3 separate regions of the Homo sapiens genome follow, and all the other regions are linked to region 3. Evidence: fine-mapped expression QTL. A gene starts in region 3. Each other region holds a variant in brackets. All regions are shown on one strand. Distances are between the middles of the regions.

The links. PIP is the estimated chance that this variant, and not a neighbour inherited with it, causes the effect.
Region 1: its variant is fine-mapped to the expression of LPAR3 in whole blood (TOPMed, PIP 0.95).
Region 2: its variant is fine-mapped to the expression of LPAR3 in whole blood (INTERVAL, PIP 0.97).

Annotation. Positions count from the first base shown.
Region 1 is chr1:84,922,566-84,925,326 of GRCh38, reverse strand. No RefSeq gene overlaps it. Among named protein-coding and RNA genes, the nearest start is that of LPAR3, 31 kb to the right of the region's middle. The variant C/T (reference allele first, on the strand shown) is at 1,668.
Region 2 is chr1:84,864,792-84,867,552 of GRCh38, reverse strand. LPAR3 (lysophosphatidic acid receptor 3) reads left to right here. Exons shown (of 3, transcript NM_012152.3): 2 at 1,415-2,168. The coding sequence starts at 1,433. Among named protein-coding and RNA genes, the nearest start is that of LPAR3, 27 kb to the left of the region's middle. The variant G/C (reference allele first, on the strand shown) is at 1,318.
Region 3 is chr1:84,891,800-84,894,560 of GRCh38, reverse strand. It overlaps LPAR3 (lysophosphatidic acid receptor 3), which reads left to right and starts at 1,355. Exons shown (of 3, transcript NM_012152.3): 1 at 1,355-1,545.

The sequences.
Region 1 (2,761 bases), 31 kb before region 3:
GTGAAGAGGAGAATTTGAATTAAGCAGGACCCTCCTTCCAGGGCTCTTCCTCTTTCTCCTTGGCCTCAGTCGCCCTCCCCACAAGCCCCTACCCAATTTTCCTTCTCATGTCACCTTCCCCCTCCTTGCTCTGACCCCATCTTCATATGCCTGCACCAACTATAGGCAGGGAAAATCATGCAGTTAATACCATTAAAGTATATAAGAGAGTAGATGACTCATGTCTACACACAGAGTACTTTGCTAAAATTATTTTAAACTTTCTTTTTTACAAGATATGTGAAGAGTTATGTTTGATTTTTAAACTAAGACACCATTAAACTGGTGGTTCTGGGGTCATTTGCCTGACCCAAGAATCAGATACGTAATTGGACCACTTGTTAACTTCTGAGTATATTGTCATATACTTAGTTTTGTCTCTGAAAAGAACTGCTATTTTTTTTCTTTCTCTCTTTTTTTTTTTTTTTAAACAGAGTCTTGCCCTGTTGCCAGGCTAGAGTGCAGTGTCATGATCTTGGCTCACTGCATCCTTTGCCCCCCAGGTTCAAGCGAGTCCCCTGCCTCAGCCTCCTGAGTAGCTGGGACTACAGACATGCACCGCCACACCTGGCTAATTTTTTGTATTTTTTTAGTAGAGATAGGGTTTCACCATATTGGCCAGGATGGTCTTGATCTCCTGACCTCGTGTACGCCCGCCTTGGCCTGCCAAAGTGTTGGGATTATAGGCGTGAGCCACCACGCCCAACCCAAGAATTGCTATTAACATGGTGAAACCCTGTATCTACTAAAAATACAAAAATTAGCTGGGTGTGGTGGCAGGCGCCTGTAGTCCCAGATACTCAGGAGGCTGAGGCAGGAGAATCGCTTGAATCCGGGAGGCGGAGGTTGCAGCGAGCCAAGATCCGGCCACTGCACTCTAGTCTGGGTGACAAAGTGAGACTCCATCTCAAAAAAAAAAAAAAAAAAAAGCTTTCATTTGTTCTGCAGCTGTGACTGCCATTTGAATAGAAGATTAATGATGGGTTTTCATGCTCATATTATTCTTCTATTGGCTTTCATGTTTTCTTTTATTTATTTTCCCTCCAGCTGGACAAAACAGTTTTAGAAAGAAAAATGTTTTTCAGGGTTAGCTCACATCTATAGAAACATTGTTTTCTCCCTTTTTAATAATGTTAAACAATTGTCACTTTATCAACTGTATTGTTATTTGGATTTTATTGAACAATGTTGTCTCATAATTCTGCTAATAGATGCATCTGGGATAAATCATTTTCTCTCTTATCATAGGCCTCCACTTAGAGGGTTCCCTGTGAAAGTTAGGAGACACATTCTTTCTGCCTGCTGGTTTCATTCTGGGATCTCCAACCCTTGAATTTAACTCCTTGGCTTGTGGTGACACAGTCAAAACCATATACAACATCTTAAAGCTTTTTCACTTGAGCTGGTAGGAGAGAGTGTGGGCATAAGAGCCATCTAGACAGACTTGAGTTAAAATTCCAGCTTAACCTAACTTTAAGGCCCTGAACAAGTTACTTTCTTCCTCTAAGTGATGATAAACCTCAACCAAGACTGGCACTTAAGTCACATAATTTATGCAGAGCCTGGTATTGAATTCATTCCTGAGCTGTTATTTCCCTTTGATTCTCTAACATGTTTGCAATAGTTTC[C/T]ATGGGACCATGGAATAATGCAGACACGACTTTGCTTCTGCAACCTGTCTGCCTCAGCTGTCCTCTTCCTACTGCTACCTGAGTCTCCTTGGACAGGTCATGCCATGCATAGATTTCCTCATCCATAAAATGGGATTATGAGGATTGAATGAGTCAAACGTAAAGTGCATAGAATAGGGCGTGACTCCTAAGTGCTCAATGACTATTAGCTCTTCAAAAAACATGTCTTACTAACATGGTCTACAAATGTACAAATCTGTTCATCTGGGCCAGCCAGGAAGATTTTTATTTTATAATGCACTCACCACACACTTCTGGTGGACTTTGTTCTAGTTAGAACTTTAAGTGTGCAAAAGTCCCCCATCCAGTCCTGTCCTGGAGGCAATGATCAGTTCAGCCCTAAGAAGCTCACACCTAGCCATAGAGGAGCAGCAAGGAGAAGCAGCCTAAATGGCTGGGGCACAGCTGTCAGTCCTGATGGAAGAGAAAAGGTCCAGGAGGTGCACAAGCTGTCACAAAGCCTCAGTCCTTCACCCTGGGTGAGACCCTCAGTCCTCTACTAGGACTACCCCCTTAACCAAACTTGTCAGAATGTATAAAATTCAGGCCCACTTCCTTCTCAACCCATTGCTGACTCAAAGTGGTGAATGCAAAAGAGTGAGAGAGGGTAGTTAGGAAAAGCTCTTCGTGCGATTCGAGGCACTGTCCCCCACTCCTGCTGAGGACCTACACTCCAACAATTGTAAAAAGGGTACACTGATCCAGTGGAAGACCACGCTTGGAATCATGGGTTTATGAAAAGCACAATAGCCCAGCCTTTTGATCTAGGGGTAGCCAGTCGCCCTCTTGTCCCTGTGGACCTTCATGTAAAAATGGCCCAGCACTGGCCGGGTGTGGTGGCTCACGCCTGTAATCCCAGCACTTTGGGAGGCCGAGGCGCATGGATCACAAGGTCAGGAGATCGAGACTATCCTGGCTAACACAGTGAAACCCCGTCTCTACTAAAAATACAAAAAAATTAGCCGGGCGTGGTGGTGGGCACCTGTAGTCCCAGCTACTCGGGAGGCTGAAGCAGGAGAATGGTGTGAACCCAG
Region 2 (2,761 bases), 27 kb after region 3:
TAAAAAAAAGACTGAGATACATTTCTATTTTGTACTACTTAATAGTTATCTGGTCTTCTTGATTCTGGTTGTGGTATTAGATTTCAGAATTTTCAGGAACTTTAAAATCTGGGGGCTTTTACTGAGCTTTTACTGTCACAGCTCCCAGAGGGCTGCTCAGTCCCTCTGCCGACTGAATCTCTGGTTCTCCAGGGAATAAGCTGCAGCCTCATTCTCAGTGAGGGAGCAGATGGTCATTCTTCCAAGAAGCTAGAACCCTGACCCTAAGCCCAATCTTCTTCCGTAGGACCGTTCATGGCTGTGGCCAGACCACTGTGAGGCAGAACACTTGGTTTTCCCCACCACGTGTAGACAGATGGGCATCCGTGGGGCTTCTGCCCAGCCCTTCCTTGGCCAAGATCCCTCGCTTTTGGGATTCAAGAGATCTTTTACTGAGAGGATTAGTGTCTTCCCTGTCTGCCTGATATCCCAGTTTGGGGTCTTCTTTCAGACAAGTGTCTGAAGAACATGCCCTCACTTAATAGATATGTTCTCACATCCACATTGAGTTGGAGATCTGCCCCAATTCCAAATCTCAGTCTTGCCTGTGGAAGCCCGATCCTCCTCCACCTGCCGTGTTGAGGAATGCTGGAAAATCCAGTGAGCAGGTTCACATTGGTACAGTTTGGGTTAGGAGACTATAAGGAAGAAGTGAACAAAAGGTAAGGAAGGGAGATATTGGGACCAAAGTCTCCATCCCTGCATCATATACCTAATATGTGAATATCAGAGTTGTTTGTTGAAACCAAAAGATGGCAAAAGGAGGATCAGGAGTGGAATCAGAAGTCATAGAAAACTGGTCTCTTGGGGTATCTGTTTGGTTATGTGAATGGTAATTCAACTCCTATTATCTTGGGAAGAATGTACCTGAAATTACCAACCTGCCGTTGATTAATGAACATATCCATAAATAACTAATGAACTGGGAGCCAGGAGGAGGCATTAACATAATGTGTTGTCATTGTGTTACCAGTGCAGAGTGGATATTGCAGGGCTCAGCACATTTGCCCTGTTGATGCCTCCATGAGAATTCATTCATTCATTCAGCCAGCCAGCCAACCTACCAATAATTACCCACCATGAGGCAGACAGAGCAACTGAATCCTAGGGTTGTAATGGTGAACAAAATAGAGATACACCCTCCTAACCTGAGCGGCCTAGCCTGGGAAACAAACAATTAAAATGTGCGCTAAATGCTGTGGTAGGAGGTCAGGGGCTATGTCCTGGACCAAAGGACATTTGCACTGAGACCTGACACTTCAGGTCTTCAACTCCCTT[G/C]ATGGGAGTTAGCCAGAACGGGCTTAGAAACAGCAATTGATGGCTTAGTGACTGATTTTACAAATGATATTTGTTTCTTCTTTAAATTTCTTTCTAGGATGTTCACTTCTCCACAATGAATGAGTGTCACTATGACAAGCACATGGACTTTTTTTATAATAGGAGCAACACTGATACTGTCGATGACTGGACAGGAACAAAGCTTGTGATTGTTTTGTGTGTTGGGACGTTTTTCTGCCTGTTTATTTTTTTTTCTAATTCTCTGGTCATCGCGGCAGTGATCAAAAACAGAAAATTTCATTTCCCCTTCTACTACCTGTTGGCTAATTTAGCTGCTGCCGATTTCTTCGCTGGAATTGCCTATGTATTCCTGATGTTTAACACAGGCCCAGTTTCAAAAACTTTGACTGTCAACCGCTGGTTTCTCCGTCAGGGGCTTCTGGACAGTAGCTTGACTGCTTCCCTCACCAACTTGCTGGTTATCGCCGTGGAGAGGCACATGTCAATCATGAGGATGCGGGTCCATAGCAACCTGACCAAAAAGAGGGTGACACTGCTCATTTTGCTTGTCTGGGCCATCGCCATTTTTATGGGGGCGGTCCCCACACTGGGCTGGAATTGCCTCTGCAACATCTCTGCCTGCTCTTCCCTGGCCCCCATTTACAGCAGGAGTTACCTTGTTTTCTGGACAGTGTCCAACCTCATGGCCTTCCTCATCATGGTTGTGGTGTACCTGCGGATCTACGTGTACGTCAAGAGGAAAACCAACGTCTTGTCTCCGCATACAAGTGGGTCCATCAGCCGCCGGAGGACACCCATGAAGCTAATGAAGACGGTGATGACTGTCTTAGGTAGGTAAGAGGACCCAAGCAAGCCATCATTCCCATTCATTCAGCAAATCTTTACGGAGCATCTGTGGTGTACCAGGCACTTACTAGGCAGTAAGAATGCAGCAGTGAACAAGAACGGACATAAATCGCCACCCACCTGGAGCTTACACTCTAATAAGGAAAGATAAAATAAGTATTCTAATGGGGGTAAACAAATTAAGTGAAATAAGATGAGTCTCCTGTGGAAAAATCAATCAGGGAAGGAAGGAAAAATAAAGCAGGGAAGGGAGCTGGAGAGTGCTAAGCTAAGCAGGTATCGTTTGCACTTTAAAAAAGTGTTGTGAGGGATGCCTGGAAGATGACTTTTGAGCAGAGGTGTGAAGGCAGTCAGGGAGTGAACCATACTGGTGTCTGGGGAAGGGTGTTCCAGGTGGGAGAAGCGGTAAGCACAGGAGCCCTGACCAGCCAGGAAGCCACTATGGCTGCATGGATCGAGCAGAGGGAGTAGGAGAAGATGAGGTCAGGGAGCTGGTGGGGTAGGGGATGGGCTACTCAGATAATGTAGGGTCATGTGGTTATAAGGACTTCAGCTTTTCATTTTTTTTTCTTTTTTC
Region 3 (2,761 bases):
GCGATCTCGGCTCACTGCAACCTCCGCCTCCCAGGTTCAAACGATTCTCCTGCCTCAGCCTCCAGAGTAGCTGGGATTACAGGTGCGTGCCACCACGCCCGGCTTTTTGTATTTTTAGTAGAGACGGGTTTTCACCATGTTTGCCACCGAGCTTTTTTATCATATGCAAAGCTTCTGCTTGTAAAAGTAAACACATGATCTTTCTTTAGCCCTAGCTTCGCAAGTTGTACTTCTCTCTACACAGTTCAACTGCAAGACACCGCAATAATTTTCTGAACACTTAGATGAAACAATAATTTTCACATGCTGATGAAAACTTAGCTGTAGCCCCGGGGAGGTTTGAGGCACATTAGGCTATTATGGTCTATAGGATAAGACCCACGGAGTAAGGGACGTAACCTTATTAAAACATCCTCTGCAGAGAAAACAGAATCTCTTTGATGGTAGGGGACAGATTATCTAACAGGTTGTTTGCAAGGATGAGGTTCCTAGCTGGCACACAGAAGGGCGCAGTATTAATGGTGAATGCAAGATGAATGAATGAACGGATGGATGGATGGCAAAGGGTCACAGGAAGACATCTGGGCACACAACTCTCATTGCTTCCTAAGGGCCTGAAGTCTGAGTGGGAAGGACTTCACCTCACAGTATTTCCTTTTTGTAAGGTCACCAGGAAAGCACAACTTTGAACATTTCTGTGACTTCGTTATTGCTTTGCAGAATTCAGAGAGAACAATGCCTTCATGACATTTGTTTTACTTTGCATCTTTCTTCTTTACTAAAGGTGGGTCAGTGGAGGTTTTATATTTCAGCTTTGAAAAACAAAGTATCCAGGACTATTTGCCCCAGGAGGCCAAGAAACCTCTTACAAGAACCTTAAATATTGTTGGTTGCCTCTGGGGGCTGTCCGCACCCTCGGGTAGCTTTGGGGTTGAGGTTTCCAGCGTTAGGTCGGGCTTGGAGTAGAGCCTGCCTCCCACGGGGGTGGTGGGTGTGGGCTGCACTTCCCGCAGCCACTTCAAACAAATCTCTGAGGACAGAGGGGCAGAGGGACTGCGTTCTAATACGGAGCTCCGAGGTATGGCTCCGTGAGGCTTGTGGGTACTAGCGGTCCTTTAGTGGGCGCTTTTCCCTCTCGGGGCCGGCCGACCACCCACCTGGGGACGATCCCAGGCAGGAACGCGTCTGCAAGAGCGCTGCCCTCCCGCGGCTCGCACGGGCCCCTTTGAGCGCAGCTCGCGGCCTTGCAGGTTGGGGACGCTCTCCAGTGGGAACGTCGAACGCACCCGGCGGGGCGGGGCGGGGCAGGGAGGGGCCGCTGTCCCTAGGTCCCTCCCTCGCACCGCCAAACTTTCCTTTGGCTCTGGACGCGTCGCAGGGGTCGCTGGAGAGGAGGCGCTCCGCCCGCCCGCCGCGTCCTCCGCTGCTTCTCCGCGCCCGGCTGGAGCCCGGCGCCCGGTCGCCCCGTCGCGCTCGACCCCGAGGGCATGCGGCAGCCGCAGGGGCCCCCGCTCCCGGGCTCGGCGGCGCGGGTGAACGTGAGCGGTGAGTGAGGGTCCGGGCGCAGGGAGGGTACCCCGAGCCGCAGTCACCAGGGCGTGCGTCGTGGGGAGGCCGGGGCGCAGCGGCGCCTGCAGGGCTCTAGCCTGCGGCTTTTCGGGGTTGCCTGGCGTGCAAGCCTGGGCTCCAGACCCACTCCAAACCCCGGGACAAGACTCTCCCGGCGGGTGTATGGCACAACTTGCTCTTTTCCCACCTTTTTCCCCGCTAGGAGCAAAAAGCAATCTAGATGCAAAATCGGCGTTGCGTCCGCTGCTGAGGGCTGGCGGGCTGGGCGCAGAGGCCAGGAGAGCGCCGCACGGGTTGCGTCTGCCTTTGCACACGTGGTTCTTTCCAAACTCAGTCTCATTGCCATCGATGGTGATTAGGAAACTGGGGTTCTCTCGTGAAGCCTAGGGATATAACATTTTTCAGCCTCCAGTTACATCTGGTACTGTGCTGTGTCCGCTGGGGAACAGCTTGAACCATGTGCAGGCTTCTAGAGATTCGGGAACTAGTAACTAGCAACACTGTCGGGGTTGTTTGTTCAGGGTATGCCCCCTCACCACCACGAGACAAAAGTGCTTTTGTTCTGTAGCAGAGTTACTTTATTGCTTTCCCTCAACAAGTTGCAGCTACACAAAATTGCTTAGAAATTCCGCACGCATGTAATTTGAGGAGTGACTGTGAATATTGGAAACAATTTAGTCTTATTAAGGTAATCATTAAAATGGCCCTGAAAAGCATTTGTAGGTTAGTTTTTATTTATTTATTTATTTATTTATTTATTTATTTATTTATTTATTTTTGAGACACAGTCTCGCACTATCATCCGGGCTGGAGTGCAGTGGCGCGATCTCGGCTCACTGCAACCTCCGCCTCCCAGGTTCGAGCGATTCTCCTGCCTCAGCCTCCCTAGTAGCTGGGATTGCAGGCGCCCACCACCACGCTAGGCTAATTTTTTGTATTTTTAGTAGAGACGGGGTTCCACTGTGTTGGCCAGGCTGATCTCGAACGCTTGACCTCGTGATCCACCCTCCTCAGCATCCCAAAGTGCTGGGATTACAGGTGTGAGCCACTGCGCCCGGCTAGGTCAGTTTTTTAAACTGAGTAATTTCCACGAAATGTTTCCCCCGTAATTTGTTATTGTCATTACAACGCTTTTCTTCCTCCTTTTCCTCCGAAAGTAGCATTACCTGGTCTTGAGATGCCGTTTAGAAAT